Regions from separate parts of the Homo sapiens genome. Here all the other regions are linked to region 3. Evidence: fine-mapped expression QTL. A gene starts in region 3. Each other region holds a variant in brackets. All regions are shown on one strand. Distances are between the middles of the regions. Region 1 overlaps TSPOAP1 (TSPO associated protein 1). Region 2 overlaps GDPD1 (glycerophosphodiester phosphodiesterase domain containing 1). Region 3 holds the start of MPO (myeloperoxidase). Region 4 overlaps LPO (lactoperoxidase).

Evidence for each region. PIP is the estimated chance that this variant, and not a neighbour inherited with it, causes the effect.
Region 1: its variant is fine-mapped to the expression of MPO in whole blood (INTERVAL, PIP above 0.99).
Region 2: its variant is fine-mapped to the expression of MPO in whole blood (INTERVAL, PIP above 0.99).
Region 4: its variant is fine-mapped to the expression of MPO in whole blood (TOPMed, PIP 0.99).

Annotation. Positions count from the first base shown.
Region 1 is chr17:58,307,417-58,311,416 of GRCh38, reverse strand. TSPOAP1 (TSPO associated protein 1) reads left to right here. Exons shown (of 32, transcript NM_004758.4): 19 at 204-581; 20 at 666-905; 21 at 1,259-1,450; 22 at 2,037-2,876; 23 at 3,476-3,575; 24 at 3,655-3,806. Among named protein-coding and RNA genes, the nearest start is that of TSPOAP1-AS1, 16 kb to the left of the region's middle. RefSeq lists an enhancer at 1,183-1,882. The variant C/AGAGGAGGAC (reference allele first, on the strand shown) is at 2,171.
Region 2 is chr17:59,264,028-59,272,407 of GRCh38, reverse strand. GDPD1 (glycerophosphodiester phosphodiesterase domain containing 1) reads right to left here. Exons shown (of 10, transcript NM_182569.4): 7 at 5,234-5,367; 8 at 1,413-1,472. Among named protein-coding and RNA genes, the nearest start is that of GDPD1, 48 kb to the right of the region's middle. The variant C/T (reference allele first, on the strand shown) is at 3,853.
Region 3 is chr17:58,279,392-58,287,173 of GRCh38, reverse strand. MPO (myeloperoxidase) reads left to right here and starts at 6,239. Exons shown (of 12, transcript NM_000250.2): 1 at 6,239-6,569; 2 at 6,715-6,808; 3 at 7,160-7,335; 4 at 7,528-7,651; 5 at 7,748-7,782. The coding sequence starts at 6,416. RefSeq lists enhancers at 2,128-2,384, 2,297-2,912, 5,289-5,306 and promoters at 4,959-5,159, 5,205-5,430, 5,315-5,716, 6,109-6,249, 5,655-6,249.
Region 4 is chr17:58,259,023-58,263,022 of GRCh38, reverse strand. All of the region lies in intron 9 of LPO (lactoperoxidase), which reads right to left. Among named protein-coding and RNA genes, the nearest start is that of MPO, 20 kb to the left of the region's middle. The variant G/A (reference allele first, on the strand shown) is at 2,150.

The DNA.
Region 1 (4,000 bases), 26 kb before region 3:
ATGACAGATTTTAGAACTGTTCCATCACTGAAGCCATATGGCCAGGAGGATGAAATGAGATAGGCCATGCAGAGGGCTTAGCACAGTACCTGGCGTAATGCTAGCTGCCACTGCTGTCAGTTAGCTGCCACTGCTGTCAGTGCATCCTCACGCTTGGCTGTCTCAGCCTCTGCTTCCCATCCTGTGCCCCCTCCACCCTGCAGATCATGGAGGTGGCCTCACCCACGGCAGGCAGTGTACTGGTGGAGTTGTCCCAGCTGCAGCTGCTGCAGGTGTGTCGTGAGGTGGTCGTGCGCACCATGTCGCCCCACGGGGAGTCGGCGGACTCCATCCCGGCTCCTATCACTCCCGCCCTGGCTCCGGCCAGCCTGCCAGCCCGAGTCTCCTGCCCCTCACCGCACCCAAGCCCAGAGGCCAGAGCGCCCCTTGCTTCAGCCTCCCCAGGGCCTGGAGACCCCAGCTCTCCTCTCCAGCACCCTGCTCCCCTTGGAACTCAAGAGCCTCCAGGAGCACCCCCTGCAAGCCCTTCCAGAGAGATGGCAAAAGGGTCCCACGAGGACCCTCCAGCACCTTGCTCCCAGGTACCCTGTCTGGGGAGAGGGGAGCAGGTGCAGGCTGGCAGAGGGACCTGGGCTTGGGTCCTTCCTCAGTGCTCTCTGTTCCAGGAGGAGGCTGGGGCAGCAGTGCTGGGCACCTCAGAGGAGAGGACAGCCAGCACATCTACCCTGGGTGAGAAGGACCCTGGCCCCGCAGCTCCCTCACTGGCCAAGCAGGAGGCCGAGTGGACTGCAGGAGAGGCCTGTCCGGCCTCCAGCTCCACCCAGGGAGCACGGGCCCAGCAGGCGCCAAATACCGAGATGTGCCAAGGAGGAGACCCAGGGTCTGGGCTGAGGCCCAGGGCTGAGGTAGGGGTTTGGGGACACACTGTGTCACTTCAGAGAATTGAGGCCTGTCTCCCTACCTTTTGCCAGCGCAAATCCAGTTGCCCTCTCTGCCTGTCCTCTGCTCTGGTCCTGCTCTCACACCTTTGGCTGTGCTATGTGTCTGTTTTTCTTCTAGGATTTCTCTGTCCCATGTGGCTCCCATCTCCCTTCTCCCACCCTGCCCCTGAGCCATGGTGTGCCTCCCCCATTTAGGACATGGCTCTTTCTCCCTCTGCCAAAGGACCCTTGTTACTGTGGCTGGGGCTGACCCTGCCTGGAACCCCCTGTGCCCCCTCACTGTCCTTATCTCTCCTGCCTTGCCTCACTTCTTGCAGAAGGAGGACACAGCAGAGCTTGGGGTTCATCTGGTGAACTCCCTCGTGGACCACGGCCGCAACTCAGACCTGTCAGACATCCAGGAGGAAGAGGAAGAGGAGGAGGAGGAGGAGGAAGAGGAGCTGGGTTCCAGGACTTGCTCCTTCCAGAAGCAGGTTGCTGGCAACAGCATCAGGGAGAATGGGGCCAAGGTAACGGGGTAGGGATGGGCTGTTGGGCCCCAGGCCTCAAACTCCGGGGCCTCCCCACTGTGTGTCAGCAGGTGCTCTGACCACCACTGAGTGCCAGAAACATTCTAGGTCTGTGGCCTGGGCCCTGTCCTAAGCAGAAGATAGGAAGTGCCCCAGGATTGGCCCCTGCCCTCCTGGAAAGAAAGGGGAAGGGGAGGAGTTCATTTCTGTACCTTCTCTCCCTCCAGCCCACCAGATACAGCGCCCTGGCCAGGGGAGGCCGGTGCCACCTAAGATCCTTGTGCTGGTAGCTTCTGGGGAGGGGATGGGGAGGCCTGCTCCTCAATGCTCCTGTCCCACAGGGGCTGGTGATGGTTCCTAGAGTGTGTTCCCTAATTCTTCCTTTGGCTCTCACTGGATATGTGTGTGAATTTGGGCCAGCCACCGTCCCTCTGGTTCTCTCCTCTCGGAGGAAGCCGTGGGAGGGCTGTGGGGTTGTCCGTAACCCCTGCCTTCGTTTGAGGGCAAAGATCGCAGCTCGCTCTCCTCTTCCCCACGCATCTCTCTTCCCTGCTGTGTTCTACTCCCACCTCCCCACCTCCACCAGTCCCAGCCCGACCCCTTTTGTGAGACTGACAGCGATGAGGAGATCTTGGAGCAGATCCTGGAGCTGCCCCTCCAGCAGTTCTGTAGCAAGAAGCTCTTTAGCATCCCGGAGGAGGAGGAAGAGGAAGAGGAGGA[C/AGAGGAGGAC]GAGGAGGAGGAGAAGTCAGGGGCAGGCTGTTCTTCCCGAGACCCTGGCCCGCCTGAACCTGCATTGCTGGGGCTGGGCTGTGACAGTGGTCAGCCCCGAAGACCTGGCCAGTGTCCCTTGTCTCCTGAGTCCTCCAGGGCTGGAGACTGCCTGGAAGACATGCCTGGATTAGTTGGTGGAAGCAGCCGGAGGAGAGGAGGGGGCTCCCCTGAGAAGCCCCCAAGCCGCAGGCGGCCTCCAGATCCCCGAGAACACTGCAGCCGACTTCTCAGCAACAATGGGCCCCAGGCCTCTGGACGACTGGGCCCCACACGGGAGAGGGGTGGCCTCCCCGTAATTGAGGGCCCCAGGACTGGACTAGAGGCTAGCGGGAGAGGCCGGCTGGGCCCTTCCCGGAGGTGCTCCCGTGGCCGGGCGCTGGAGCCTGGCCTGGCCAGCTGCCTTTCCCCCAAGTGCTTGGAAATCAGCATTGAATATGATTCGGAGGATGAGCAGGAGGCGGGCAGCGGGGGCATCAGCATCACCAGCTCCTGCTACCCTGGAGATGGGGAGGCCTGGGGCACAGCAACTGTAGGAAGGCCCAGGGGGCCTCCGAAGGCCAATTCAGGCCCCAAGCCCTACCCACGCCTCCCAGCCTGGGAGAAAGGGGAACCAGAGCGGAGAGGCCGCAGTGCGACGGGCAGAGCCAAGGAGCCACTCTCCCGGGTCCGTGCTCACTCCCCGCCCTGGGCAGCCCCTGCCTGCTGCCACCTGGTGGCCCTGCTTGCTGCCCACCAGCAGCTCCCATTCCACGCTGCCTGCCTCCATCAGCAGAGGTGGGGCCGGGCCTCCGGGCTCCCTCACCTGCCTCCTCCCACCCACATTCCACTGCTTTGCTGCTTCTGCTGATCAGGACTGGGATGCACAATATTCTATCACTAGTCGCCTGTTGCGGCCTGTGGGCAGGGTCGCCCTTTCCTCTGCATAGCTAGTAATGGCTTCAGGACGCTGACTGTGATGCCATGTCCAGGGTTACCTGCCCTGATGCTGACGGGAGGCCCTCCTCTCGCGGGCTCCTCAGCCAACTCCAGTCCCCTCTACTCCATTCATCTACTCGCAGGCTGGGGCTGGGGCCTCCCCTCCTGCCCTCCCTCCCACTGTGGGGGTGTCTGAGGTCTCCAGCAGGCTGGGCCGAGGCTCCGGGAGAGGAATGCTGTGCTCCTGCGCTGCTGTGCTGCTTACGCTGATGGGGCAGAGCTGGGGGAGCACGAGCCCACCAGAGGGATGGTGTGTTACTTTTGCCATCTGTTGCCCTCTTTTTGCAGGCAACAGAGACCGGAGAGGCCAGAGGGCAGGACGGCTCTGGGCGGAGGGGCCCCCAGAAGAGAGGTGTCCGAGTCCTCAGGCCAAGCACTGCAGAGCTAGGTGAGCACCTGATGGGGCTGGAGCTAGAGCTGCTCGGCCAGAGCTCGCTGCGTCACCGCCCTCTCCACTGTCTCCACAGTCCCTGCGAGGAGCCCCTCAGAAACACTGGCTTACCAGCACCTACCCGTCAGGATCTTTGTGGCTCTGTTTGACTATGACCCCGTGTCAATGTCGCCCAATCCTGATGCTGGAGAAGAAGAGCTTCCCTTCCGAGAGGGTCAGATCCTGAAGGTGACTGATTCGCCATCAGGGCTCAGAATTCCAAACACCAGCTGGGTCTTCCCTCCTCCCTCCTTTCCTCCACTGGAGGTAGCACAGAATCATGGTGGAGAACATGGCTTCTAGAGCAGATGACATGGGTTTGGACCTGACTCTGCTGCTTCTAGCTGTGTAACCTTGAGTAGATTACCTAGGCCCCCTGGGCC
Region 2 (8,380 bases), 980 kb before region 3:
CAACAAATGCAGGTCAATTTCTATAACATCATAGTTCATTACACAATGGATTAGTCTTTTGTAAGCGATGTTAGAAGCATTATGTCCATTAATTACACTATCCTATGTCTAGGGAAAAAATATTTTTTTGTTCCAAGTAACTCACTGATAAGTGAACTTTCAAAATACAAACCTCTTGAGCAAGATAGGAATTCATTGCACTGGAAAGACATTATTTCTATTCTGTTATGTCTATTAGAATGATTAAATAACAGAAACTAGAAATCATGTGCTTTTAACACCAATTAACAATGCATCTTGTCAGTTAATAGGGTTGAAAAAAGAAAAAAAATGCATCCTGGTTTTACTTGAGTACAAAAAAAAGGCATCCTTGAAAACTAGAGCTTAAATCAAGAATAAAGCAAAAAAGAATAAACACTGACAGAGAGAAAAGATAAAACTAATTGTTTAAGACTCTTTGAAAAAGGCGTTAAGGCTGGGCGCGGTGGCTCACACCTGTAATCCCAGCACTTTGGGAGGCTGAGGTGGGCAGATCACATGAGGCCAGGAGTTCGAGATCAGCCTGGCCAACATGATGAAACCTCATCTCTACTAAAAAATACAAAAACTAACCAGGCATGGTGGGAGGCACCTATAGTTCCAGCTACTCGGGAGGCTGAGGCAGAAGAATCACTTGAACCCAGGAAGCGGTGAGCCGAGATCACACCACTGCACTCCAGCCTGGGCGACAGAGAAAGACTCCATCTCAAAAAATGAATAAATAAATAAATAAAATAAAATAAAATAAAATAAAATAAAATAAGAAGAAAAGGCGTTAAATAATAAAAAGTTGTGATTTGGGACTATTAAAATATTTAAGCATTCAAGGTTCCATCTTAAAGCAAAATATAGTACAATTATTTAGTGATTTTTACTAAAATTAAACTCATCATGTCTAAATTAAGGCATTTACTTTAAAGTTGATATCCACTCTATAGGTGGGATTTCCTTTCTGCTGTTAAGTCTTGGTGCAGAGCAAATTTTTCTGAGAAATGTGCTGTAGGCAACATACACTTTTATATATACTGTGTTGCTACACTTCTTTTCACCAGCAAGTAAGCTAAAGGGAATGGTTATTTAACCTAGTTCTGCTACTAACTAGCTAGATAACCCCAAGTAAATAATTTAACTGGGTATATGGGGGCTCAGTTTTCTCATGAAGTTGGAGGACATTATCTCTCAAGATTCTTCCTAAGATTTTGTGATTAGTAATTAAGATATTTCTAAATGATTCATACACATTTTACATAGCAGGTGCTCAATTTGTCCTTGTTACAAATTACATGTGGAAAGCTTGCACAACATTTTAAGGGTAGTATTTAATAAATATAGCTGAAGCAATAACTTGCATATTAAGAAATTAAAATTCTTACAGATCAGAAAGCCAGATGAGAAACTTTTGACTTCTGGACATGGTGTGTGGTTCTTTTAGCCTAGGGTAAAATAAAGTTTGAATTACAAATTAGAAACACAGAAATATATCAGTGTGATAAAATGAAACAAATTCAAAAATGAAAACAGTGCCTTGTACTTTGTATATTCTCAAAAAATATTTGTAAAAAGGACAAAAATAAAATAAAGGCCAGTTGGGTTCTGTTTGCACTGGTCTCAAGCTAACTTTTTGCCATCCCTATTCAAAAGTAATAAATAAATAAATAAATAAATAAATGCATACATAAATAAATAAATATTGTCTTTCCAGAGACCCTGGTGCCCTAGGCTCATATCTCGTTTCTTTTTTGGTGAAATCTTTCTCCTGCTTTGTCTCCTACAATTTAGTATGTGGCAAATTTAAACATACAACGGAACTGTATTATAGATCAAAGTGAGCAGTTTACCACGTGTTTTCCTTTCCTTTAAAATATCTGTAGGCCAGGCATGGTGGCTCATGTCTGTAATCCCAGCACTTTGGGAGGCTGAGGCTGGTGCATCACCTGAGTTCAGAAGTTCCAGACCAGCCTGGCCAACATAGTGAAACCCCCCCCCGTCTCTACTAAAAACATAAAAATTAGCCGGGCATGGTGGCGCACACCTGTAATCACAGCTACTCAGGAGCCGGAGACAGGAGAACTGCTTGAACCCAGGAGGCAGAGGTTGCAGTGAGCCAAGACTGCGCCACTGCACTCCAGCCTGGGTGACAAAGTAAAACTCTGTCTCAAAAAAAAAAAAAAGTACAAAATAAAGTACAAGTCCTTTTTTCCCTAACTCTGGCCCCAGTGGAAAGTCCTGGTTGCAATTTCAGGAATATTAGGGATTTAGTAGCTCAAATACTGATTACCTCATTAAACAATCACTATATTGTCTTAGAAAATATCCATTGTCTTCTATAGAAGTATTAAAACACACAAAATATATCCTGCTTGTGTCTTAATCCATAATCACTTTTTAGAGAAAATATTAATTCTGTGGAGTTTGTTCTTATGTCTGTATTTCAACAATATTTGCTTCTAAAAGGAACATATGAAGATAAATATAGAGCAAACAGTCCACTCCAGGCCAGAGGAAAGCTAAGTACTTTAGGAATAAATGTTTTATTTATTTATTTATTGGCAGAGTCTTGCTCTGTCACCCAGGCTGGAGTGCAATGGCGCTATCTCGGCTCACTGCAACCCCCACCTTCTGGGTTCAAGCGATTCTCCTGCCTCAGCCTCCTGAGTAGCTGGGATTACAGATGTGCGCCACCATGCCCAGCTAATTTTGTATTTTTAGTAGAGATGGGAGTTTCACCATGTTGGCCAGGCTGGTATGGAACTCCCGACCTCAGGTGATCCGCCTGCCTCTGCCTCCCAAAGTGCTGAGATTACAGGCAGGAGCCCCTGGCCCAGCCAGGAATAAATGTTTAGGGATCATTTTAATCTAGCAAATAAAATAGGGTGTTTTTTGGGGGGGGGGGTAGACAAGAAGCGTTTTCTATTGTTTTGTCTGAGAAACAGCTACAAAGATGTTCATAAATATAATTTAGGAATAAATAAAATAAACATGTTTATCACTAAGATACTGAAATTGGAAAACAGGCATGAAATAGAAGTTGAGCACAAGAGTACTGACTAAATTGTTTTTCTTTTCTTTTCTTTTTTGAGACAGAGTCTTGCTCTGTCGCCCAGGCTAGAGTGCAGCCATCTCGACTCACTGCAACCTCCACCTCTGGGGTTCAAGCGACTCTCTTGCCTCAGCCTCCCGAGTAACTGAGATTACAGGTGTCTGCCACTGTGCCCGGCTAATTTTTGTATTTTTAGTAGAGACGGGGTTTCACCATGTTGGCTAGGCTGGTGTTGAACTCCTGACTTTGTGATCCACCCGCCTCAGCCTCCCACAGTGCTGGGATTACAGGCATGAGCCACCACGCCCGGCCAATTGTTTTTCTTTCTTATTTTTTTTTGAGAAGGAGTCTCGCTCTGTCGCTCAGGCTGGAGTGCAGTGGCGCGATCTTGGCTCACCGCAACTTCTGCCCCCCGTGTTCAGGCGAGCCTGGCTAATTTTTGTATTTTCAGTAGAGATGGGGTTTCACCATGTTGGCCAGGCTGGTCTCAAACTCCTGACCTCGTGATCCTCCTGCCTCGGCCTCCCAAAATGTTGGGATTACAGGCGTGAGCCACTGCACCTGGCCTGCTTTTCTTAGCAATATTGTCTGATGACTGCTACACTAACGTTCAGCTTTATTTTTTTCCCCCAAGTCATTACCTTTATTGAGACATGCTATAAAAGAGGAAAGCTCTTCAGCTTGATTTTTTAAAGTTCTGTTGGATATGAAAAGTGTTTTCTTTTCTTTTTTTTTTTTTTTTTTTTTTTTGAGACAGAGTCTCGCTCTGTCGC[C/T]CAGGCTGGAGTGCAGTGGCGCAATCTCCGCTCACTGCAAGCTCTGCCTCCCAGGCTCACGCCATTCTCCTGCCTCAGCCTCCGGAGTAGCTGGGACTACAGGCGCCCGCCACCACGCCCGGAGAATTTTTTTTTGTATTTTTAGTGGAGACGGGGTTTCACCGTGTTAGCCAGGATGGTCTCGATCTCCTGACCTCGTGATCCACCCTCCTTGGCCTCCCAAAGTGCTGGGATTACAGGCGTGAGCCACCGCGCCCGGCCATGAAAAGTGTTTTCATGCAAATAAAATCACATTTAAATCATCTCCCCAACGATTCCAAATTCCTTTGCCATAATTCAGTTATGAATCTACAGCTAGAAATCACATTCTACGTGTGTAGAATTTTGAGATGAAGCTATCATTCTTTATAATAACAAAGATAACAATAAAAGCTATCACTCTTGAGTGCTTAGTATTTGTCAGGCAATCTAAGTGTTTTTATGTACCTATGTATTTTTACAATCTATGTATTTTTATCTTGCTAGTAAATTAGCAAGTGAAATGCAAGGCTTTTCTAGTAGTGGAATTACGTAAATATAAAAGGATCCTGGCTGGGCAAGGCGGGTCACGCCTATAATCCCAGCACTTTGGGAGGAGGTGGGTGGATCATCTGAGGTAAGGAGTTGGAGACCAGCCTGACCAACATGGTGAAGCCCCATCTCTACTAAAACTACAAAAATTAGCCAGGCAAGGTGGTGGGCGCCTATAATCCCAGCTACTCGGGAGGCTGAGGCAGGAGAATCACTTGAACCCGGGAGGCAGAGGTTGCAGTGAGTCGAGATCACACCTTTGCACCCCAGCCTAGGCCACAACAGCAAAACTCCATCTCAAAAAAAAAAAAACAAAAAACCACTATAAAAACAGTATCCTATATAAACTAACTATACCCTTTTATTTTCCTATCTCCAGAGGTTTTTATGGTGGTGGTGGTTTTTTCTTCCTAAATGTATTACAGTAATACCATTGTTTAATTTGGAGTTTAATGGAATTTGAGCTGGGTAAAGCTGTCAATGAAGTAGAAAGCAATAAGGGAAAGTGGAGGGCAACTGCTATTTGATGTGAGAATAAAATAATTATTTACCTTCTGTAATTAAATTAAATTCCTTTTATCTGATTTCTGACTATACAGGCACAGAAAATCATAATCTGAGATGGGTCCTGATTATTTGTTTTAGAGAATGTGTCTTAATTATATAAAAATGCATAATATAGGTCAGGTAATAGAACATGGAAATCACTACAGAAATCTCTTCTTCATCATTGATATTGATATTAGTGAGCTTTTATCTTAGTCTTTCTGTAATTGATAATTGATTTTAAAATAAAAGGGTAACCACTTACTTCAGTATAATAGAAGGCATTGGGATTTCAAAAAACTGTTCTCGAATGGGCACAAAGGGCAAGAGGCCAGTGAAGAAAAGGCCAAGAATGAGCAGGACACGTTGTAGACTGAAGAGTATAGGAATATCTGAATTCTAAAAGACACAAGCAATATTACATGTTATTTTTACAACTGCTCAAATAAAGAGGATTACTTCACAACTCTCAGTATTTCCCAAGACAATGTGTTGAAATCTATTACAAGCATTCCTGGGATTATGAATATTCATTTGCAAATAACACCACACTTAATAGTGGCTAGTCCTTGATAAATGGGTCAGGATTGATCTTGGAGCCTCATAGTATAATGATGTTACTAAAATTTCTCTATTACCGTCTCTGCTTTTGCAATACCACTTCTGCGTTGGTTACAGTACTTACAGCTAAAGACTAAACATGTCAGAATCCAATGGAACAAAATGAAAAGATGAATATATGGAATATTCAGTAACTTTACTCCTGTTTAAAAAATATGTAGCTATATATCTCTATATATGAGTATATATAGATACATATCAATACTGTTGCAAATGTGTCATCTTTTAGCTATGTTATGAATCAAATATAAAATATAAATAGGATTTGTAAACTAATCCAAGAATCTAACCACCATTTTAAGTTTCTATTGGAAAATATGCTCAATATCCCAAAACTTTAAAAATACAAGATAGACATACATATATATATAATTTTAATTGTGCTAAAATACACATAACACAAAATTTAAGATTTTTTTTTTTTTTTTTTTGAGACGGAGTCTCACTCTGTCACCCAGGTTGGAGTGCAGTGGCACAATATCGGCTCACTGAAACCTCTGCCTCCTGAGTTCAAGCAATTCTCCTGCCTCAGCCCCCCAAGTAGCTAAGATTACAGGCGCACACCACCATGCCCAGCTAATTTTTTGTAGTTTTAGTAGAGATGTGGTTTCACCATGTTGGCCAGGCTGGTCTCAAACTCCTGACCTCAGATGATCTGCCCACCTTGGCCTCCCAAAGTGTTGGGATTACAAGTGTGAGCCACCGCACCAGCCAAATTTAAGATCTTAATCATTTTTTAAATCTATTTTCTCACCACCCCCACCCCCCGCCACCCAGCAAAATTGAATGTCAATCATTTTTAAATGTACAGTTTGGTGGTTTTAAGTATATTCACACTGTTGTGCAACCAAAGTCCAGAAGTCTTTTCATTTTGCAAAAGTGAAAACAACTCTATGCCTTTTTTTTTTTTTTTTTTTGAGATAAGGTCTCACTGTCACCCAGGCTGGAGTGCAGTGGCACAACCAAAGCTCACTGCATCCTCGACCCTGGCTCAGGCAATACTCCCACCTCAGCCTCCTGAGTTGTAATAGATGGGACTACAGGTGTGTGCCACCATGCCCAGCTACTTTTTTTGGTATTTTTTGTAGATATGAGGTTTCACCATGTCACCCAGGCTGGTCTCGAACTCCTGGGCTCAAGCAATCCACCTGCCTCAGCCTCTCAAAGTGCTGGGAATACAGGTGTGAGCCACCTTGCCTGGCCAACTTTATACCATTAAATAACAAATCTCCATTCCCTCTCTCCTTGCCCTCCTATGTGTACTATATATAGATATATATATATTAGACAGGGTCTCGCTGTCACCCAGGCTAGAGTACAGTGGCTGGATCATGGCTCATTGAAGCCTAGATCTCCCAGGCTCAAGTGATCCCACACCTCAGACTCCCAAACAGCTGGGACTACAGACATGCACCACCATGCCGAGCTAATTTTTTAAAAATTTTTTGTAGAGACAGAATCTCATTATATTGCCTAGGCTGGTCTTGAACTCCTGGGCACAAGCATTTCTCCTACCTCAGCCTCCCAAAGTGCTGGAATGACAAGCGTGAGCTACCATGCCAGGCCCTGCTATATTTACTGGAAAAAAAAATTATGCTTACAGTGAACTTTTAATAAAAACATAATATATATTTTTAAAAATCACATAAAAATAATTTATTTTAAATAGTTAGTTCTAGGCTGGGCGCGGTTGCTCACGCCTGTAATCCCAGCACTTTGGGAGGCCAAGGCGGGTGGATCACTTGAAGTCATGACTTCGAGACCAGCCTGGCCAACATGGTGAAATCCTGCCTCTACTAAAAATACAAAAATTAGCCGGGCGTGGTGGCGTACAACTGTAACCCCAGCTACTCGGGAGGCTGAGGCAGGAGAATCTCTTGAACCCAGGAGGTGGAGCTTGCAGTGAGCCAAGATTGAGCCACTGCACTACAGCCTAGGTGACAGAGTGAGACTCTGTCTCAAATTAAAAAATTATATAAATAAATAAATAGTTCTAAATTATCTACTCCTTTATTTTTTTAAAAAATAGAGTAAATAAGTTTGAGAATTTATTTTGCCCCTTTGTTTACATGGTGCTTTGTAATGTTCTTGGCTTACTTACATACAGGTGTTTCAGCTGTAACAAAATATACAAGTCACTGCAAAATCTTGAGTTTTGCAAAATCATACACTAAGGATAACAGAGCTTATGGGAAAACAGGGTTAGGGGCTGACCCTCAAAACTTACAGCCAGGTGCGGTGACTCACACTTGTAATCCCAGCACTTTGGGAGGCCAAGACGGGTGGATCACTTGAGGTCAGGAGTTCGAGACCAGTCTGGCCAACATGATGAAACTCTCTCTACTAAGAATACAAAAATTAGCCAGGCGTGATGGCAGGCACCTGTAATCCCAGCTAGTCTGGAGGCTGAGGCAGGAGAATTGCTTGAACCTGGGAGGTGGAGGTTGCAGTGAGCTGAGATCGTGCCACTGCACCCCAGTGTGGGCAAGAGTGAGACTCTGTCTCAAAAAAAAAAACTTGGCTGGGCACAGTGGCTCATGCCTGTAATCCCGACACTTTGGGAGGCTGAGGCGGGTGGATCATCTGAGGTCAGGAATTCAAGACCAGCCTGACCAACATGGAGAAACCCGGTCTCTACTAAAAAATACAAAAATTAGCCAGGCATGGTGACGTGTGCCTGTAATCCCAGCTACTCAGGAGGCTGAGACAGGAGAATTGCTTGAACCCAGCAGGCGGAGGTTGCGGTGAGCCAAGATTGCACCACTGCACTCCAGCCTGGGTGACAGAGCGA
Region 3 (7,782 bases):
TCATGAGATTTTTACAAAGTTTGGAGGCTAGTTTAGCAATACGTATCTGTTAAGATTTTATTAGATACGGGGTCTTGCTCTGTCGCCCAGGCTGGAGTGTTCTGGTGTGATCATAGCTCACTGTAACCCTGAATTCCTGGGCTGAAGTGATCCTCCTGCCTCAACCTCCCAAGTCGTTGGGACTACAGGAGTATCACCGCGCCCAGCTAATTTTTTTTTTTTTTTTTTTTTTTTTGTAGAGACAGAGTCTCATTATGTTGCTCAGGTTGATCCCAAACTCCTCGGCTCAAGTGATCCTCCCACCTCGGCTTCCCAAAATGTTGGGATTATAGGTGTGAGCTACTGTGCCAGGACTTAAATTTTTTTTTTTTTTTTTTTTTTGAGATGGAGTCTCACACTATCACCCAAGCTGGAGTGCAGTGGTGCCATCTTAGCTCACTGCAACCTCTGCCTCCCGAGTTCAAGCGATTCTCGTGCCTCAACCTCCCAAGGAAGCTGGGAGTACAGGTGTGCACCACCACACCTGGCTAATTTTTGTATTTTTAGTAGAGATGGGGTTTCATCATGTTGGCCAGGCTGGTCTCGAACTCCTGACCTCAGGTGATCTGCCCACCTAAGCCTCCCAAAGTGCTGGGATTATAGAAGTGAGCCACAGCGCCCAGTGTTTTTATTTTTATTTTTTTTTGAGACAGAGTCTCGCTCTGTCACCCAGGCTGGAGTGCAATCATGCAATCTCAGCTCACTGCAGCCTCTACCTCCCAGATTCAAATGATTTTCCCACCTCAGCCCCATGAGTAGCTGGAACTACAGGCATGCACCATCATGCCCGGCTAATTTTTGTATTTTTTGTAGAGACGGGGTTTCACCATGTTGGCCAGGCTGGTCTTGAACTCCTGACCTCAGGTGATCTGCCCGCCTTGGCCTCCCAAAGTGCTGGGGTTACAGGCATGAGCCACTGCATCTGGCCTTAAAAATTGTAAATGAACAAAACCTGTGGTCCACTTCTTCATTTTTACCATGGGGAACACTTGTGTGTATGTACAACAAGGCCTCTCAAGGCATTGTTTTTTTTTTTGTTTGTTTGTTTGTTTGGTTTGTTTTTTTTTTTTGAGATGGAGTTTCGCTCTTTGTTGCCCAGGCTGGAGTGCAGTGGCAGTGGTGTGATCTCAGCTCACTGCAACCTCCGCCTCCTGGGTTCAAGCGATTCTCCTGTCTCAGCCTCCCAAGTAGCTGGGATTACAGGTGCCCACCACCATGCCTGGCTAATTTTTTTATTTTTAGTAGAGACTGGGTTTCACCATGTTGGCCAGGCTGGTCTCCAACTCCTGACCTCAGGCGATTTGCCCGTCTTGGCCTCCCAAAGCGTTGGGATTACAGGCATGAGCCACCGTGCCTGGCTGAGGGATTGTTTTTAATAGTGAAAAACAATGTTAAAATGTCAGCTTCCATTAATAGAGGAATGGTCACAAAATGGAGAGACAGGCCAACTAAGGAATATCATGTAAGTTAAAAAAGTGTGATACTACTCAGGAGGCTGAGTCAGGAGGATGGCTTGAGTCCAAGAGTTCCAGGCTGCAGTGTGCCACTGCACTCCAGCCTGGGCAGCAGAGTGAGGCCCTGTCTCTAAAAAATACCAAAAACCAAAAAACTTAAAAAAAAAAAAAAAAAGGTGAGATCACGCTCTAAGTGATACATGATAGATCTAAAGATGCACTGAGTAAAAGAAACACATTGCAGAACAATATGTATAATGGAATATCATTTATGGAGAAAAACCAGGGAACAGAATATTTCTCACAGATCCATAAATATGAATGAATGTAAAGTATTACTAAAAGATTTGGAAGGTCAAATACAAAAATGTCAACAGTGTTTGCATCTGAAGAGTGGAGGAAGGGGACTGGAACTGAGGATGATGCAATAACCTAATCTAAAAGGAGCTTTAGCTTGGTCTGTAATTTTAAATTTTTTTCCAAATATATCCAGGTATTACCTATAGAATTCAAAATTAATTAAAACAGTTGTAAAGAGAGATAAAACAAGATCTATGGGCTGAGTAAAACTGGTTTGTCTAAGCAGCCGCTGCCTCTGCCATCTCCCCAGCTTCCATAGCCTTCTGGGGGTGCCTCTTTCTCTCCAACCACACACAGGAAATCAGGCTGAAATCCCAACTGAATTATTTCTTAAACAGCATTAAGAAACAACATGCTGTTTTGCAAGCAGTAGCAGAGAGGGCCCGTTATCCCACCAGCAGCTGGGCTTCACCCTGGGGGTGGGGATATTTGGGAACTCTAAGTGGGCAGAAGAGACGGCAGTGGGGTGTGAGTGTGTTGGAGGCGGGGAGCTCTCTCAAATGACTATAGTCTTGAGATGTAGCAGTCCCAGCAGTGCCCTCCAGAGCCTACCCCCAGGAAGGGGACTGGCGGGTAACTCACATGGGACAAAGCTTATTTGAAATCCCTCCCACTCCCTTGAGCTGCATTCCCCTGGTTACTCTGCATGCTGAGAAGAGCTTTGAGCCTCAAACACACCTGGCCCGACAAATAGGGCCTAGATGAGGGAACGACAGAGGTGCAGACAGGAGAGGCTGACCACCTTGGGATAACCTCAGGTGGGTCATTATTAATTGGTTGAAAACATGTCAAGTCATAGAACATCTCTAGCCCTGGCACACACATGTGCATCCCCAGACCCACCCCCGGGCCAAAGACAGGGGCTTTGGGGAATCCACATCTTGGGAGTGCTCTCACCTCTATGTGGGTGGAGCACTCAGGGAGTTTAAACGTCGTTCTTGGAGAAGTATTTTCAAACACTCCTGGCCTGATTGCTGCCTGTGAGGAAGCAGAGCAAGCCTCTTAACAGGTGAATCGCTGACATGCTGCCTGCCAGGTCTCTGTGTCTGGGCCTGCCTTTCCAGCGCACTGTCCACACTGCAACCAGAGCAGGTGAGCTCTCCAAAGTAACTTGGACCATGCACTTCCGCTTCACAGACCTCATGACTCCCTGGGGCTTCGGGACAATAATTTCTCAGTAGGTCTGCGAGAATGTTGCATCCTGGGCCTCTGCTTGGCCCACCAGCCTCACCCTGTCCACCCTCTCCCTGTGTTGGAACTGAGTGAAGCCGACAGTGTCATTCTCTGGGCCCAGAATGCTCTTCCTCTGTGTCTACTTGGTCAGCTTTGAGACATTCTTCAAGACAGTCTCCAGAATCAATTCCTCAAGAAAGCCTTCACTGACCTCCCCCAGTTGATCCAAGTGCTGCTCTTCGCTGCTCCCTAAGGTCCCTGCATTGGTTCTGGGGGTGCCATTTGTTTGCCTTTCTGCTCCCCTCTGTGAGCTCCTTGAGGATAAGGCTCATGCTTTGCTCAGTGGAGAATGCTCAATGCCCAGCGCAGCACCTGACAAGGGCTCAGTAAATACTTGTTGAAGGAATCATTGAATGACAAGGGCTCAGTAAATACTTGTTGAAGAAATCATTGAATGAAAGGTCAGGAACAGGTGTCCAGAGGCTACTGGGTAAAGAGCACTGGTTTGGAAGTCAGGAGACTGGGCATGGAGATTATTCTGAACTGTGTCACACTGCTGACCTTGGTCAAGTCGTTTCCTTCCCTGGGCTCCTTCTTTCTCAGCTCTACAATAAGGGGCTTGCATTAAATATCTCTCCCCTGTTGAGCCTTGACAATTCCCTTAAAAGAGCGAAAGGACACTCAAGCATACTCAAGGTTGACAAGGGTGACAGGGGACAGGTGCTCTCATGCATGGCTGATGGGAGGATGAGGTAAAATCTTCAGCAGGCCATTTGACTATCAATATTAAAAAGCCCTAAAACACGCATACCCAAATACGCAGGAATTTTACTTCTTGCCTAAGGAAATAATTGACGATGTGGCGAGAGATTTAACTCCATGGATGCTTATCCTAGTACTACTTATAATAATGAAAATCAGAAACAACTCTAAGTATCTAATGAGATAGAATTAGTTAATAAATCATATAAAATAGTTATATGAAATATTATACAGACATAAAAATGAAGTAAACCTGTATTTATTGACACAGGGAGATGCTCAGACTAAAATTGTTAAGTACCGAAAGTAGATGGTAAAACAATATTTAAAGTTCTTCTTATCAATATTTAAAAATATATATTATGTTTACATATAGGATATCAAATTCTTAAATGAGGTATTGGTGAGTGGTGGGATTATGGGCAATTATTTTCCTTCCTATTGTTTATTTATGTGAAGACAATGATAAACCTTGAAAGAAAAAAGTACCCACAATCTCACTTGATGATGAGTAATTTTGATTTATTTTTATTTTTGCATACTCGTGTTCTCAAACTTTTCATCAGTGAAAATTATATTACTTAAAGGATTGAAAAATCATTTCCAAAAGCCTCTAAAATTCTAGAGCTTGATTCACAAAGAGCCACTCGACCAACTTCACACACAGCAAGTCACTGGCAGGGCAAAAGCTTGGTTCCCCTTCTCAGCAGGGGACAGAATCCCTGGACACACTGGGAAGATATTCTGGGTGTTGCTGTCCCTTGTCCCTTGGCCAAGAGGTGGTCTGGGCATAGAAGACAAGAGTGGGCCGGGCGCGGTGGCTCACGCCTGTAATCCCAACAGTGGGTGGATCAGGAGGAGGTCAGGAGTTTGAGACCAGCCTGGCCAACATGTTGAAACCCCATCTCTACTAAAAATACAAAATATTAGCCGGGCATGGTGGCGGGCGCCTGTAATCCCAGCTACTTGGGAGGCTGAGGCAGGAGAATTGCTTGAACCCAGGAGGCAGAGGTTGCAGTGAGCCGAGATTGCACCACTGTACTCCAGCTCCGCCAACAGTGAGAGACCCTGTCTCAAAAAAAAAAAAAAAAAAAAAGAGTGGGTGGCGGGAAGGTGGCTGAAGGTAGGAGGGGGAACCTAAATGGGACATGGGAGGCATGGTTGGCACGAGCTCAGCCTGACCAGGGCCCAGAGAGGTAGACTGATTCAGTCAAAAGTCGTAGTACTTTTCCTGCTGAGATTGGTGGCCCTTTTGCTGGGCTTTCTCAAGCAAGAAATATCCTCTTCTGTTTCAGAATTATTCTGAATCATTAACCCAAGTCCTCCCAACTGCACTGATCCTGTCCCAGAGAGGCCCTGGGCTGCATCACCTAACTGATCACTAACCACAACCAGTTCTGCTCTCTCCTGGTTCCTGAAATCCAGGAGCAGATGGTGGTGGGGAGGAGGAGTTTGGAGACAGCCCTCTACCAGAAGCCAAGAAGAAAGGGGAGTGAGGAGGGATAGAGGAAGTTATCTTGGTCCTGCGCCCACAGTCCCCAGGGTCCTCCTTCCTGTGAAGCCCAACGGTCTCCAGCCAGATTTCCTGTCCCCTTAGCCCCACCAAGAACCAGAGGCTGCCCATTGGGTGGCTGTTGGATGCAGGTTACTGTTGGAGTGGGGGATGGCCACCTGAGGCCAATTGGGTCATCTTTACTCCAGGTCTCCCTTTCATCCTCCTGTCTTCCCTGGGGGCACTCTATTCCCTGCAATTCCTTGGGCTACCAGTTCCTGACTTTTGTTCCTTTCAAAGGAACCCTGGATAACCAGTGTAACCAGAATTTCAGAGGGGTTAGTTGTGTGTATCCCCTGGGGACAAGCACTGGTATAGGCACACAATGGTGAGCTGAGAAATCTTGGGCTGGTAGTGCTAAATTCAAAGGCTGGGGACAGGCTGGGGCCAGTGGCTCATGCCTGTAATCCCAGCACTTTGGGAGGCTGAGGCGGGTGGATCACTTGAGGTCAGGAGTTCAAGACCAGCCTGGCCAACATGGTGAAACCCTGTATCTACTAAAAATACAAAAATTAGCTTCTTGCCTAAGGAAAAATACAAAAATTACTTCTTGCCTAAGGAAATAATTGATGATGTGGCTAGAGGCTAGGGCGTGGTGGCGGGCACCTGTAATCCCAGCTACTCGGGAGGCTGAGGCAGAAGAATCGCTTGAACCATTGCACATCAGCCTGGGCAACAGAGCAAGATAACGTCTCAAAAAAAAAAAAAAAAAAGGCTGGGGACAATGCTGGCCCCTCCTTTCCTGCCCCTTCCCCCCATTTCAGGGGCCCCTCTGTGTGTACCTTCCAACCCCAGTGGGGGAGGAGAAAGAGTTCAGTCTCCAGGATCAGACCTTCCTCTACCTCACCCCACCCCCAGCTTAGAGGACATAAAAGCGCAGATTGAGCTAAGAGGAGCTGACAATATCAGGTGAGCTGTGGAGGTGGGGTCCTTGGAAGCTGGATGACAGCAGCTGGCAAGGGGATAAGAGAGCAGTGAGCCCCTCCCTCAAGGAGGTCTGGCTTTATCCATAGACAGGGCCCTCTGAGGTGGGGCTGAGGTACAAAGGGGGATTGAGCAGCCCAGGAGAAGAGAGATGGGGGTTCCCTTCTTCTCTTCTCTCAGATGCATGGTGGACTTAGGACCTTGCTGGGCTGGGGGTCTCACTGCAGAGATGAAGCTGCTTCTGGCCCTAGCAGGGCTCCTGGCCATTCTGGCCACGCCCCAGCCCTCTGAAGGTGCTGCTCCAGGTAACAGTTCCCAAGGTGGGAGAAGATGGTGTGTTGGGGTGGTTGTGTTCCAGAGACCCCTTTTCTCAGAGCAGGCCTTCCTAGCTCTGGGGCCTGATAGGGGGTTGGGGCCCATTCCTGACTTTGTGATCCCTGCTCTGGGCAGCTGTCCTGGGGGAGGTGGACACCTCGTTGGTGCTGAGCTCCATGGAGGAGGCCAAGCAGCTGGTGGACAAGGCCTACAAGGAGCGGCGGGAAAGGTGGGGCACGAGGCACTGCCCAGCTCTGGGCAAGGATGTCCCAGGCCTTTCAGAGAAGCAGCAGGCAGCAGGGAGCTTGAAGGTGGGAGAGGGGGACTATGGGGACCCATGTGGACTCCCTTTCTGTCTGTCTGTCCCTGTGTTTCTGGATGGGAGAACAGCTTAAAAGCCATCCTTCCCAAAGCCTTGCCTCTGTCTGGACACCCAGGTCCATATCCTTTTTATAAAAGGAAGCCTTCCTCCCACCCGTGGGCCTGCCTGCATGGTCCTGCATGTCTGCCCCTGGGCTGGGGCTCTGCTGGGTGGGTCTGTATCCCTTCTCTGGCCCTCACTCCTCCTTTCTCCAAGCAGCATCAAGCAGCGGCTTCGCAGCGGCTCAGCCAGCCCCATGGAACTCCTATCCTACTTCAAGCAGCCGGTGGCAGCCACCAGGACGGCGGTGAGGGCCGCTGACTACCTGCACGTGGCTCTAGACCTGCTGGAGAGGAAGCTGCGGTCCCTGTGGCGAAGGCCATTCAATGTCACTGGTACTGTTGCCCATCACACCCCAGGTCCCTGCTCCACTAGTGACTCCTCCTAGGGACCCCAGCCGTCTCTCAGTGATCCCCTCAACTTCTTCCTCCAGGGAGTCTCAGGAGTCTCCAGGGCTCCTCAGCCTCAGGTTGCCTGGGATAGGAAGTGAGGCGGCTCAGCTCCCCCATTGTTCTTTCCCCCGGCAGATGTGCTGACGCCCGCCCAGCTGAATGTGTTGTCCAAGTCAAGCGGCTGCGCCTACCAGGACGTGGGGGTGACTTGCCCGGAGCAGGACAAATACCGCACCATCACCGGGATGTGCAACAACAGGTGCGGCTGGCTGGGGGTGGCTGCAGGAACCGGGCTCAGAGAGGCGTCCCGGACGCCACAAGCCTCCCGGTGTCAGCGCCCTGTCCTCCCCTGCAGACGCAGCCCCACGCTGGGGGCCTCCAACCGTGCCT
Region 4 (4,000 bases), 22 kb after region 3:
ATTGCTCAAACAAACCAGAGCCTCTGGGTTCTGTGAGACCATAACAAAAGATCTGGCATTCATATCAATGGAGTTCCAGAAACAGAGGAGAAAGGGGGTGAAACTGAAAAAGGATTTGAATAAATAATGCCTGAAAATTTCTCAAAATTGGTGAGAGGCACACATTTACAGATTCAAGAAGATGAATGAATCCCAAACAGGATAAACAGCGAAATTCACTCCAAGGCATATCATAATTAAATTTCTGAAAACTAAACATAAAGTATTAAAATAGTCAAAGAGAAATGACACATTACCTATAAAGAAACACCAATTCAAGTAATGGTAAAGGGCTGGGTGTGGTGGCTCACGCCTGCAATCCCAGCACTTTGGGAGGCTGAGGCGGGTGGATCATCTGAGGTCAGGAGTTTGAGACTAGCCTGGCCAACATGGTGAAATCCTGTCTCTACTAAAAATACAAAAAGAATTATCCAGGTGTGGTGGTGAGCATCGGTAATCCCAGCTACTCGGGAGGCTGAGGCAAGAGAATCGCTTGAGCCCGGGAGGCGGAGGTTGCCGTGAGTCGAGATGTTGCCACTGCACTCCAGCCTGGGCAACAGAGCAAGACTCTGTCTCAAAGAAACAAAGAAATAAACAAACAAACAAAATATCGGTGAAGCTCTCATCTGAAACCACAGAAGCCAGGGGAAGTGTCGCCACATTTTTCATGTGCCGAAAGACAAGAACTACCAACCCTGAATCCAATAGCTGGTGGAACGATTCTTCAGGAATAAAGGAGAAATAAAGACATTCTCACACAAAGGAAGACTCAGAGAATTTGCTGCACACAGACCTATCCTTAAACAATGGCTAAAGGAAACTCTCTAAACATGAAGAATGGTAATAGAAGAAGGACAGGACCTTCAGAAAGGAAAGAAGAACAATGTAATGGGTAAAAATAGAAGTAAACATCAATTCTTTTCCACCTCATGAATTTTTTCATTATATTTTATGGTTGAAGCACCATCTGATGTGCTATAAAACATATATAGAAGAAATGCTTCAGACAATTATATTTCAAAAGTGGGGAAGGTGAAGGGACCAAATGGAAATGAGTTTTCTACATGTCACTTGAAATGATAAAGCACTGACACCAATAGGTTGTGATACGTTGTAAATCCATATCTCTATCTCTCTCTCTATCTTTATTTCTATATCTATCTACCTATCTATCCGGAGAACAACCACTAAGAAAATTATACAAAGCAATATGTGATCAAATGGACCTCTAAAAAATGTTCAATTAACCCACAGGAAGGCAAGAAAAACAATATTAGAGGAAGAAGAAACAGAAGGAACAAACAGAAAACAAGTAATAAAATGAGAGATATGGGAGATTTAATCCCTAACATGTTAATAATTATTTTAAAGATAATTTAAAAGTACTAATTACTAAAGGTCAGAGATTGGCAGAGTATATTTCTTTTCCTTTTTTTTTTTAAGTGACCCAACTATATGATGTCTAAAAGAAACTCGCTTCAAACATAATGACATAGGTAGGTTGAAATTGATGGAATAAGAAAGATCATGCAGACATAAATTTTTAAAAGCAGGGGTGACTATATTAATATCAGATAAAGTTGACTTCAGAGGACAAAAGTGGAAATTACATAATGATAAAAGGATCTATCCATCAAGAAGATGAAGCAATCCTAAATGATATGGATCAAACAACAGAACTTTAAAGCTTTAAAATACATGAAGCAAAACCTGACAGGACTGGAAGAAGAAATAGGCAAATTCTCATTTATAGCTAGGGATTTCAACACCTGACTCTCAGTAAGTGGGAGAATTACTAGACAGAAAATTAGCTGGAGTACAGACTGAATAGCACCATCAACCAACAGATCCAACTGACATTTACAGAACATTGCATTCAACAACAGCAGAATACACATTCTTTTTAGGAACTCACAGAATATTCAACAAGATAGTCCACAGCAGGGTTATAAAACAAATCTTAACAAATTTAAAATTGAAATCATACAGAGTATAGTTTCTGATCATGATGGAATCAAACTAGAAATCAGGAAGGCAACAGGAAAATCTACAAACGCTTGGAAATTAAATAACACTCTTCTAAATTATACATAGGTTAAAGATGAAGTCC[G/A]AAAGGAAACTTAAAAAATACCTACTGAATGAAAATAAAAACACAATATATCAAAATTTGTGGGAGGCAGTCAACTCAGTGCTAAGAGGGAAATTTATAGTACTAAATACATTAGAAAATAGAAAAGATTGCAAATCAGTCATCTAAGTTTCTACTTCAAGAAACTTGAAAAATAAGAGCAAAATAAATCCAAAGCAAGCAGTATAGTTTAAAGGATAAAAATCATATGATCCTATCAATTGATGCAGAAAAACCGTTTGACAAAGTTCTACACCTGTTCATGATAAAAACTCTCATTACACTAGGAATGAAGCAGAACTTCCTCAACCTCATAAAGGGCAACTACAAAACATTTATAACTAATCTTATACTTAATGGTGAAAGATTGAATACTTTCTCGATTGGGAAGACAAGGATGCCTGCTTTCTTACCATGCGCATTTAATATAGTATTGGAAGTTTGAGCCACTAGGAAGTTCCAGGAATTGCCACGTAATAAGGCAAGAAAAAGAAAGAAAAATCATATGGATTAGAAAAGAAGAAACACAACTGTCTTTATTGGCATATTACATGATTACCTGTTTAGAAAATCCAAGTAATCTACAGCAGAATGCCTAGAACTAATTGAATTTAGCAAGGTCACAGGATACAAAATCAACACATAAAAAAATCAATTATATTTTCATACACTGATAAAATAAGTAGAAACTGCAATAAAGCTGTAATACCATTTATAATTCCTCCAAAGAAAATGAAATACTGGGCTGGGCATGGTGGCTCACGCCTGTAATCCCAGCACTTCAGGAGGCTGAGGTGGGCGGATCACGAGGTCAAGAGATTGAGACCATTCTGGCCAACATGGTGAAACTCTGTCTCTACTAAAATACAGAAATTAGCCGGGCATGGTGGCGGGCGCCTGTAATCCCAGCTACTCAGGAGACTGAGGCAGGAGAATCACTTGAACCCGGGAGGTTGCAGTGAGCCGAGATCGTGCCACTGCACTCCAGCCTGGTGACAGAGCAAGACTCCGTCTCAAAACAAAACAAAACAAAATGAAAATTAAATACTGAGGTATAAATCTAACAAAACATGTACAGAATCTGTGTGATAAAACTACAAAATGTTGATTAAAGAAATAAAAAATCTAAAGATTGGGGAGACATACTTAGTTTATGGATTGGAAAACTCAACATTGTAAAGATGTCAACTCTCCCTAAATGTATATATAATTTTAATGCAATTTCTATCAAAATTTCCATAAGGTTTTTTGATAGACATACACAAACTTATTTAATAATATGTATGGAAAGGGAAAGATCCTAGAATATCCAAAACAATTTTGAAAAAGAAGAATAAAGTGTTTTAAGGCTTACTGTATAGCTATAGTAATTGAGCACTGTGGTATGAGAGGAATAGACATACATACAAACCAATGGAAGAGAATAGACAACCCAGAAATAGATCCATGTAAATATGCCCAAATATTTTTTACCAAAGAAACAAAAGCAATTCAATGGAGAAACAATAGCCTTTCAATAAGTGGTGCTGGAGCAATTTGACATCCATAGCCAGAAAAAATTTAAAAAAGCATCTTGACCTAAACCTCACACTTTATGCAAAAATTTACCCAAAATGGATCATAGACTTAAATGTAAAACATAAAACTATAAAACTTCTAGAAGGAAAAAGCAGGAGAAAGTCTTTGGGACCTAGGACTAGGAAAAAAGTTCTGAGACTTGACATCACATGCACAATCCAGGAAAGGAAAATTTGATTAAAAGAACTTCATTAAAATTAAAAGCTTTTGCTCTACAAAAGACCTTCTTAAGAGGATGAAAAAAAAAACCCCCAC